2 separate regions of the Homo sapiens genome follow, and region 1 is linked to region 2. The links come from fine-mapping of genetic effects on gene expression. Tissue or cell type: whole blood. Region 2 holds a variant in brackets; the other region holds the start of a gene. All regions are shown on one strand. Distances are from middle to middle. Region 1 holds the start of GATAD2A (GATA zinc finger domain containing 2A). Region 2 overlaps GATAD2A (GATA zinc finger domain containing 2A).

Region 1 (5,526 bases), 40 kb after region 2:
CTAAGACCCAAAGAGGTCCCGGCTGTGAGCCTCACTGCACCAGCCCTTGCCTTAATCCCCTTCAAGAGGGTCCCCCTTCTTGTTCTCTGACCCCAGTAGGAGAAAGGTCCTTTCGGGCTCACCAGGTCACAGTGTCCTTCTCTCCTTGATCCCTGTAAGTTTCCCCATGTTTATAAGATTAATTACGACTCCTGGCCCACTAATCTCACTATAAACTCTACTGAGGAGGGATTCCTCGCAGTGTCGAAGGCACAGTATGCACTCTGATATTTGTTGAATATATCAATCTAGAAATCACTACCTGCAATGCCAGAAATTCAGAAAATAAATGATGCAAAACAAGTCAGAGGAGCTACTGAAGAGTTGAAAATTAGAGTATTTAAAACATGTTTCCTCATTAAAAACATACACACACACGCAAAATACAGAGACACTAAAAAGTTTTCTAAAAAAGAAAAACTATTGCTAATCCTAATGTAGAGACCTTTATTGACATTCTGGTACAAATCCTTCCAGGATTTTTTCCTACCGAAAGTAGCATTATATTTTTCCCTCACTATCAAAATATAAGATTATAGGATTTGCCAAATGATACTGCATTAATAGAGATGACTTGACATTTTAAAAAATGATGTCATCTGAGTGGAAATAACAATGCATCCGCCAGGCGTGGTGGCTCACGCCTGTAATCCCAGCACTTTGGGAGGCTGAGGTGGGCAGATCACGAGGTCAGGAGTTCGAGACCAGCCTGGCCAGCATGGTGAAACCCCGTCTCTACTAAAAATACAAAACTTAGCCGGGCATGGTAGTCCCAACTACTCGGGAGGCTGAGGCAGGAGAATTGCTTGAACCTGAGAGGCGGAAGTTGCAGTGAACCAAGATCGTGCCACTCCAGACTGGATGACAGAGCGAGACTCCGTCTCAAAAAAACAAACAAACAAACAAAACACACTGCATCCAAATCTTTCCATTCTCTATAGCCCTTCCAAGATGAGAAGCAATCTTCATAAAAACCAGCTTCGGAATTTTATGAGACAAATAAGAACTGAAAGATGAAGGAGGGGAGGGAATAAGTGAAGACAGAGGATACAGAAAATCCCTTGCAAATTTCCCACATCCTATAAACTGTTTCCTCTAGAAAAGGGCCAACTTTTCTGAGTCCAAAGCTGAAGAAGCGAATGCAAAGTAGCAACTAACTCTGTAGTTCAGTTCCTTAAAATCCAGCTGGTAACGCTGCTCCACTAGAACAAAGCAGGGCTAGCATGGTGTCCCCATGTCACCAGATTATCCCCTACATCCGCAAACAGAGGTGCCCTGGATCCTGGACAAGAAAATGGCCTTGTATTTTAGAAGCGCCAGGGAAATGCTCACTAGGGTTCGCAAACTGCAGCATTTGTGGGCTCTAGAGCACCAAGTACGGGCTGCCTGGCTCTGCCTCACTACTAAGAGGCCTTGAGCAAGCCGCCTGGCCTCCAGCAGCCCCAATTTCCTGACCTGTAAAGCGCAGATAATACTTCCCTACTCCCCACGGGATTGTTATAGGCACTGAATATGTCTGTGCAGGGGAGCTTAGCACACAGTAGGCACTCAAACCCGAGGGCTAGTATGAGCTATCAGCCCTCCACAGCTTGTGGTCAGGTCTGACAAACTACTGCTTAGCATATGTTAACAAACTGGTGCCAACAAACATTATTTCATGTAATCTAGTTTAAAAGAAAACTTGTAACGACTACCAGAAGAGTTAAGTCAGTCAACAGGACTACAGTCCAAGACTGAGACACCCGCACAGAGGGCTCTCAGTTTCTGTGCTGCCACAGCCAGGAGGTGTCACTGTGTGAATGGGCACACAGAACCAGAGATGTAACCAGCACTATGTACTCCAAGAAAACTGAAAGAAGTAAACTGGTAGGAAGAAAGAAAATTAAAGGCTCAAGTGACTCACTCGGACTTTGATCTAAAGAATCCACAGCTCTTAAGATAAGGATGAACTATACACCTAAAGACGTTAAGTCAGACCTACAAAATTTTGCCCTGTGCAAAATTCTCAGGGCAGAAACACGCACCTAAGGGTTGTCATTCACTTCCTAAGGGAGGGGTCACCATTCATTTCTGGGTCCCAGTGTGCGCACAATCCAAGTGTCCGTCAGGCTCTCAGCCTGGGCCCTGCCCATAAGCCTTTCCTTGTTGAAGTGATCAATTCCGATTCTTGGCAATAATCCCTTTAAAAGGCCAGCTGCTGCTGTCTAGTCACTGATGCCGACCCACTCTAGGTGGGAAAAAAGAAATCAATGGAGCCACCGCCTAGATGGGGAGGCAAATTTAAAGTGTCGGGCCTTGAGAAAGGCCGGAGATCAGAGAGGGGAAAGGGTCCCGCGGCTCCCGGGGGTTAGGCAGGAAGGGCGCGAGCTGGGGGAGGGCCGGCCCTCCAGGCGTGGGCGCGCGGGGACTCTTATTCTGACACGGGATCCGCCGCCGCCGCCGCCGCCGCCGCCGCGGGGTTCAGCGTTGCTGCCCAACCCGCCCCGGACCCCCGCCCCTGAGCGGGACCCCCGCCCCGCGCGCCCACGTGCCGTCTTCCCGCCGCCTCCACCCGTCCCGACCACTCGGAAGAGGCGCCTCGCGGCCCAGCCCTTCCCCCGACCCCGCAGGAAGCGCAGGACGGAAGCGGGGCGACGCCGCGACTTTCCGGGACCCCCGCCCGGCCCCCACGTGCCCGGGCCGCCTCGGGGCAAGGAACTTTCCAGGGCAGCGCAAGAAGACGCTCCCAGAATACAAGGAGTAGAACTCGCTCGCTCTCACTTTTCCACGCTCATGCAGGGGTCCTTCAGAGCCCCCCGAGGCCCCGACCCTGCGCGGCCCGCGCCGCTCCAGTCTCAGCCGTGCGTCCCCAGCCCCCGCCCCCCGCCAAGTTTGGTCCAGAACTTACCGGGCCGCGGGTCGGCCGGGCCCTAGGGCAGCGCGCAGGTTACGGGGGCTGCTGGTCCGGGGTCGCCCGCGGGGCCGGGCGGCGGAGGGGCCGGGGACGCCGGGCCGCGCGCGCTCGTTCCGCCTGTGGGGCCGCCCGGGCCCGCGGCGCTCGCTGCGCCGGTCCGCCCGCCCGCCCGCGCCGCCGGCCAGATAATGCGCCCCTCGGCCGCACACATGGAGCCCGGCGCCGGCGTCACCGCCCGGGACATGCGCACCAGGTCAGCGCGCCCGGCCCGCGGCCCCCAAAACACCGGGGAGCTCTTAAAGGCGACGCCGCCCGCCCGCGCCCGGCTGGGCGGGGCGTGGCGACCGAGGGGCGGGGCCTGACGAGAAGGGAGGAGCTCGTGGGCGGGGTTCCAGGCGTAGAAGGCGGGCCCCTGAGTTGAGGGGGCGGGGCCGGACGGTACCGCCCCGGAAGCACCGCCCCTCTCCGGCGCGCTCCCACGCGACACCTCGTTGGGCGCGCTGGTTTCCCACGCGGGCTCCGGCTGGCTCCCTCCCCGCCGAGTCCCAGCGCCCTCCGCAGGCCGAAGGGTCGTGGCCAACTCACCGGCGGCAAAGCCGGGCGGGCCGCACCCAAGGCTGACTCACGACGCGCTCACTGCTGACCTCGCGCCAGCTGAGCTGGGCGACCTCAAGCAACTCAGGGTTGCCTCTGAAACGCGGGTTAGAATGTCACCCCCGCGGGGTCGTCACGCGGAAGCTCTTCTCTGGGAACTTCGGCCCCGGTGTCTGTGGGGAGGGCGGGGTGTGGATCGGCTGAACGATCACTTCTCCAGTGCAGTGAACAGAATTCTACAAAGAAAGCTCCAGACCCACCCACCTCAAGACACTTGGGGACGACTGCTCTCCCTCTCCAGTTACCTCCCAATCTGCCCTCGTGCCTCAGGGAGAAGGTGAAAACCCCTCAAGAAAGCAAATCTGCACCCCTCCCTCTCCAGTAACAAGGAGGAAACACAGGAGACAGAATGAAAGCCTGAAAGAGAATGGACTTTGGAGATGTTAAACTACATAAAGCGAAATACAATTTCAATAGGGAAAATATCAAGTTCATGGAAAATCTACCACAAGAAGGCTCTCAATACCAAAATCAGGTTCTGAGGAATCCCCAAAACCGCCTCTTTTCATGTTGTTTTAAAACAAACGATTCCTGATGAGACACCTAGACTCCTGAAGAGTGGTGGTGACATGCTTTATCGCATACCCTAATAAATCTATATGTACAACTGAAACAAAAGTTTCACCAAACATAAATTTACCACATGCAACGTACTGTTTTCTTTTTTCTTTTTTTTGGAGACAGAGTCTTGCTCTGTCGCCAGGCTGGAGTGGTGCAGTGGCGCTATCTCGGCTCACTGCAACCTCCACTTCCCAGGTTCACGGATTCCCCTGCCTCAGCCTCCCCAGTAGCTGGGATTACAGGCGCGTTCCATCACACCCGGCAATTTTTTTTTTGTATTTTAGTAGAGACGGGGTTTCACCATCTTGGCCAGGATGGTCTCCATCTCCTGATGTCGTGATCTGTTCGCATCGGCCTCCCAAAATGCTGGGATTACAGGCATAAGCCACTGCACCCAGCCTGTACTGTTATTTCTATTCTACTTCATTTGAAAAGAAAATCAATGTAACGCCCAAGAATAATTGGGTCTCAACCGCAAACCTGAAAAACACTTCATGTAGAACAAATTTTACAAAATTGTTTTTCTAAAAAAAAAAAAAATTGTTTTTCTGCTGTATGTCCCCTTAAACAGAGTTCAAAAAAGCTCCTAATTCTGTGTTGAGTTCTACATACAATTGTCAACTTTTTGTAGTTTATTCCACCCCGCCACCTCACACCTCCCCAAACACACCGCCCTGCCCCCCAAAATCTTCCCACTACTTAATGCAACATCTGGCACAACCTCCCCTAGGCCAAAAGAGAATTCAACCTAAAAATGATACAAAATACAAACTGTTGACTCCCAATCACTTTCCCTGACCCAGTTATGTCACCAATTTGCTTTGCTTTGCTACAAAGAAATTCAAATGTTCAAATTCAGAAACCAAACAAACAAAACAGTCTTATTCTCAAACAGGTGACTCGGTATAGGAATTCAAAGAGCTCCCTGATCCCAAGCGCAAGGTTGGTTTAGGGCAACCATCCAGGTTTTTCACCCTAACATGGTGGCTGTATATTTTAAGAACTGCTTCATGCTACGATCATTAATCAGATGATGTATATTAAAGCAATACAAGCAAACTATTACCTCACTGCTCCTCACCTGGGTCTTGATTAATGTCAATTTAATTAACTACAAACAGAGCAAAGTGTGGTCAGGTGGGAGACCTGACACTTGAGACAGATATACAGATTCCAGAGTTTGAGCCAGCAAGCCCTGTGTGAGTCACCAGGGTGACAACCACCCCTTTTTTTTTTTAAGAGGGAGGCATCAACTGCAACACATTAATGACACACCCCTGTGGAGTGAGGGGTGCACTGGTGACAGGGCCTGCTCCAGAGGGCAGTGCCAACTTCTCAGCCAGGAAAGTCGGACGGGGAGTAGGAGGGGTGCAGGGTAT
Region 2 (5,000 bases):
GAAAGCTGAGGCAGGAGAATTGCTTGAACCCGGCAGGCGGAGGTTGCAGTGGGCCGAGATTGTGCCACTGCACTCCAGCCTGGGAGACAGAGAGAGACTCCGTCTCAAAAACACAACACAACACAACACAACTACCAATAGCTCCCTGTGCTCACACTGGAGATCAGGACTTGGTTTCTGTGTGTGACATCTCAGAACTGTTCAGTGCCCAACACTGCCCTCATTTGAGGCCGTGCTTGAAGTGGCCCCACACCTGCGCCGCTGTTGGCCAGGGCCTGTGCCCAAGCCCAACCCTGCGGCCCCAGAGAGAGAAACAGACGCTGCCCAAGGAACACACGACATAGAAACAAAGGTGCCGCCTGTGAAGGGGGAGTCCGGGCAGTCTTAAACCTCCACAGGTAAATGGGGACCAGAGTCCCAGCTGTAGGACGTCACTGTGAGGGCTGGCCATGCTCCCCTTCTGTGGGAAGGGCCTGGCTCTCTGTCCCCTCCCAGATGCCTCCTGGACCGTGAGCCTACGTGGCCTACGAAGGGTTACGCCTGCCATTTCCATGCCATCTGCTACGTGCCCATCAGGCGTCACATCACAAAATGGGAGGCCTTAACCCTTCCAGGGCTGTAGTCTCTCAGGGCTGAGCCAGGCGAAGCTGTGGCCCTGACCACCAGCTCCATCAAGGCCTGAGACTGGAAACGGCAGGGAGGTCTGGCACAGAAAATTCCAAGGGCCAGAAAAGCCTTCTCAGTTCCTGGAAGGAAATGTCAAGTGGAAAGTGAGGGAACCAAAAATTCATCTGTTGCCATTTTCATCAGGGCACCCAGCAACGTGGTGACGCTGTGGGCTGGAGGCCCTGCCCAGGCGCCCTTCCTCAAGCTCCTCCCTACAAGCATCCTGCAGCATCACAGAGCCACAGGGAGGATCACAGCCAGCAGGGAAACCTACTTCTATGATGAAACAAACTATCTGCTCTCAACGCAGCCCCAGCCCGTGGGTCTACCCACAAACAATCCTTGCAGCAGGTTCCTGCACAGCTGTAAGGGCTGGGACAGAAATCCTACTTCTACCCTCTACCTTGCAAATGGAACTCTTCCCCTCAGGGGTGGGAGGAGTCTGTGTATAGACACCCACACCAACCTCTGGGCAACAGCTAAGCTCAGCTGTGCCATGAAGTGGGGGAGTGGGGGGTCTGTATCAGTGCTTCTTTGGTAAAACATGATACTTAATAATACGGAAGCAAAGCCCTGGCCAGAAGGTCCTGCTGGCCTGACCATAATCCAGCCACCCCTGTGCCCGTCCCCCAAGTCCAACCAACCCCTCTCCTGTTCTCTCAGCTGGAGCCACACTGACATCCTGGCTCACTCCCACCTCAGGGCCTTTGCATCTCCACTCCCCCAGGTCTCAGCTGATAATGCAAAGTGAGAAACGCTTCCCCTCCACACATGCCCCCCAGGGGGTCTCTATCCCCTTTCCTGCCTCATCACCACTTGACATGCTATTTATTCACCTCTCTGTTTGTGGGCTTCCACCCCCAGGATATCAAGGGACACCTATTTCTCTAGCACTACCATCCAAGGGCCCATGCAGGCACAATGCTTTGCACAGAAGAAGCAATGTATACGCATTTGTTAAACAGATTTGAAATAGTACTTTCAGAACTCCCAACTACCACTGCCCTTCAACCTCCTTCCCGGTTAATGCCAAAATGTCTTCATCCTGACAGAAAAGATAATGATCAAAACCAAACAAAACCTGGCCAGGCACTATGCAGTGGCCCACGCCTGTAATCCCAACACTTTGGAAGACCGAGGAGGGAGGATCGCTTGAGGCCAAGAGTTTGAGATCGGCCTGGGCAACATAGTGAGACTGTCTCTACAAAAAAATAAAAACAAAACAAAATCTTTACATCACCCCATATATGAAAATTAACTCAAAATGGATGAAAGACCCAAGTATTAGGAGCTAAATCCATAAAACTCTTAGAAGAAAAAACACAGGAGAAAAATGTCATGACTTGGTGTTTGGCAAACAGTCTTACATATAAGCACAATATCAAAAAAAGAAAAAAGATAATTTGGACTGCATCAAAATTAAAATCTTTTGTGCAAAGGGCATTATAGAATAAAAAAAAAAACACCCATAGAATGGGAAAAAATTATAGCAAATCATACACCTGATAAGGGTCTAGTGTCCAGAACATATGAAGGATCCTTACAACTCAGCAACAAAAAGACAAGCAACCCAATTAAAAAACAGCCAAAAGACTTGAACAGACATTTCTCCAAAGAAGAGAGACGAATCACCAATGAGCATGTGAAAAAGACTCTGTCTCAGTGTCATTAGTCATGAGGGAAATGCAAATCAAAACCACCATGAGAAACCGCTTCACACCCACTAGGATGGCTACAATCAAAAAAGCCAATTAAGTATTGGTAAGGATGTAGAGAAATTGGGACCCTCATACACTGCATAGTGCAAAGTAAAATGGTAAGAGTGACATGGAAAACGGTGGAAAGTAAAACGGTAGAGTGACGTGGAAAACAGTGGAAAGTAAAACAGTAGAGTGATGTGGAAAACGGTCTGCCAGTTCCTCAAAAAGTTAAACGCAGAGTTCCCACATGAGCCTGGGCAGGGCCTCCAGCCCACGGCATCACCATGCTCCCGAGTGTCCTGCAAGTCCACTTGTAGGTATATCCAAGAGAGCTGAATATAGGTATTCAAAAAAAAATGTGCAGGTGAATGTTAAAAGCAACATTATCCACAATAGCCAAAAAG[C/T]AGAAAACAACCCAAATGTCCATCAATGGATGAATGGATAAACAAAATGTGGTCCATCTAGACAATGGAATATTATTTGGCCATAAAAAGGAATGAAACTCTGACACAATGTGACTGAACTTTGAAAACATCATGCTAAGTGAAAAAAAGTCAGACAAAAAGGCCACATATTGCATGATCCCATTTATATGAAATGCCAGAAGAGGCAAACCCAGAGACAGAAAGTAGAATAAGTGGCTGCTGGGAGGGTGGAGAGCAGAGTCAAGGAAAAGGCAGTGACTGCTAATGGGGACAAGGTTTCTTTTGGGGTGGGGGTGATGAAAATGTTCTAGAATTACAGGTGATGGTTGCACAATACTGTGAATGGGTTAAATGCCACTAAACAACACACTTTAAAAACGTTAAAACTGGTGAATATTCTACCATGTGAATTTTACATGCTTTTTTAAAGAGGTGAGAAAAGAAAACAAAAACAAAAATACTAATTCCAATAGCCATGAACCCCTCTAGAGCTACTAAAATACTAACAGGCAAAAGCAGGTTTGCTGTGACCCCAACAGCACAGAACTGGGTCCTTCAGTAAACATGCTCCTTTTATACAACAAGACCCCAAACAACCACACTGCCATCAGCCATCAGCCATCAGGGTAGGCAGCCTCTATGTCACCACCAACCACGAGTCCTACAGGACAACTGCAGGAGGCTGCAGCAAGCCCACTGTACACATGGGAACTCAGAACCATCTCCCAGCTAAAGATCCAATGCCTGGGAGTATGAGAATGTGGGACACATAAGGGAGAATTCACCAAGGAGGAGCCAAGGCAGAAAGAGGAAGTGGCCTCAGAGGGCTGGAATCACAAGAGTTACTACCAGCAGAGCCCCACCTCAGCCAGGCCTTATCACAGGCCCTACACTGCCTAAAATCCAAATAAAACAAAACTGCCATGGTGGCTTTTTTTTTTTTTTTTTTAAGGGACGAGGTCTCACTCTGTTGTCCAGGCTGGAGTGCAGAGCCACAATCATGACTCACTGCAGCCTCAACCTCCAGGGCTCAAGCAATCCTCCCACCTCAACTTCCTGAGTAGCTGGGACTAAAGGCACGCACCACCACACCTGGCTAATTTTTGTACTTTTTGTAGAGACGAGGTCTCGCCATGTTGCCTAGGGTGGTCTCAAATTCCTGGGCCCAAGAGATCCACATGCCTTGGCCTCCCAAAGTGCTGGGACCAACAGGCATCATACACGGTGGTTTTACACTAACACACTATTGGGGAAGTGCCACAGGCCTCAACGTCACAAGGTGTTTCACTCATTTATTTGTCCAAATACCTGCTTAAGTTTCTACTTAGGGATCAGGGACACCCTTGGGGTGCCAACAACGATAGGCCTCCTACTGGGAGCTGCCTCAGGAGCCCCAAGGAGAACACTGGAGTGGGGGGCACAGCAGGCACAGCACATACCGGAGAGAGGCAGGGTTGAAGTCCCTCACACACTGTTCGCTGGGTCCCTAGATCACAACTCTAAGCACTACTGTTCACGAAACAAGTCATGTGCAAGTCCAGCTAACCACCTACTTTATCCACTCGTGATGGGCTACGACTGCTGTGGATGGGCAATACCAATGGGGAGGGGAGAATGGTTTTCATCATAGAGTCAGGGTACTGGAGTGGTAGTCAGATGTGCCCCAGGTACTGAGCAGGGAGGCGACAGGAAGGAGGCCCAGAAGCTCATGCCCTTAGCTGTCCAGTCAAAGCCAGAAAGCCTGATTCACCCACAAGGGCCTCAGCTTCCTCACCTGTAAAATGGGAACAGCACCCACTTTATTGCTAACACTTCCTGAGGGCTCCACGAAGAGTAGCTGTGAGTGTTGTAATTACAGAAAATAAGAGTGTGTAAGAGAGGCTGTCTGGTGGGCTGACAGGCCACGGTCCCCTCTGGCAATTCCAGTCTCTGCTCATGGTTTTCTGCTTGAATTTAAACTACTCCCAAGTGGTCTCCTAAACTACCCCCAAGTGGCCTCTACCTCAGCTTTTATAAATGGCCATTTCCCCTCTTCTAGATGATCCAGTCACGAAGCTCCCTGAGAAAAGACCTGGGCCAAACCCAATTTTCACACTTTTCTTTAAGGAAAATTTCAAATCCACCCACAGAGTAGATAATGGTGTGATTAACTGCAGGTGCTTACCACCCAGGTCCACGGCCATCGGGGACCACCCTCGTGTCCTCCACA

The links. PIP is the estimated chance that this variant, and not a neighbour inherited with it, causes the effect.
Region 1: it holds the start of GATAD2A, and the variant in region 2 is fine-mapped to the expression of GATAD2A in whole blood (INTERVAL, PIP 0.94).

The regions. Positions count from the first base shown.
Region 1 is chr19:19,403,420-19,408,945 of GRCh38, reverse strand. It overlaps GATAD2A (GATA zinc finger domain containing 2A), which reads right to left and starts at 3,271. Exons shown (of 12, transcript NM_001384528.1): 1 at 2,927-3,271. RefSeq lists silencers at 2,400-2,479, 3,040-3,589 and enhancers at 2,300-3,206, 3,710-3,769, 3,207-4,115.
Region 2 is chr19:19,443,613-19,448,612 of GRCh38, reverse strand. The region is part of intron 1 of GATAD2A (GATA zinc finger domain containing 2A); the gene reads right to left. Among named protein-coding and RNA genes, the nearest start is that of MIR640, 11 kb to the right of the region's middle. RefSeq lists an enhancer at 2,493-2,612. The variant C/T (reference allele first, on the strand shown) is at 2,771.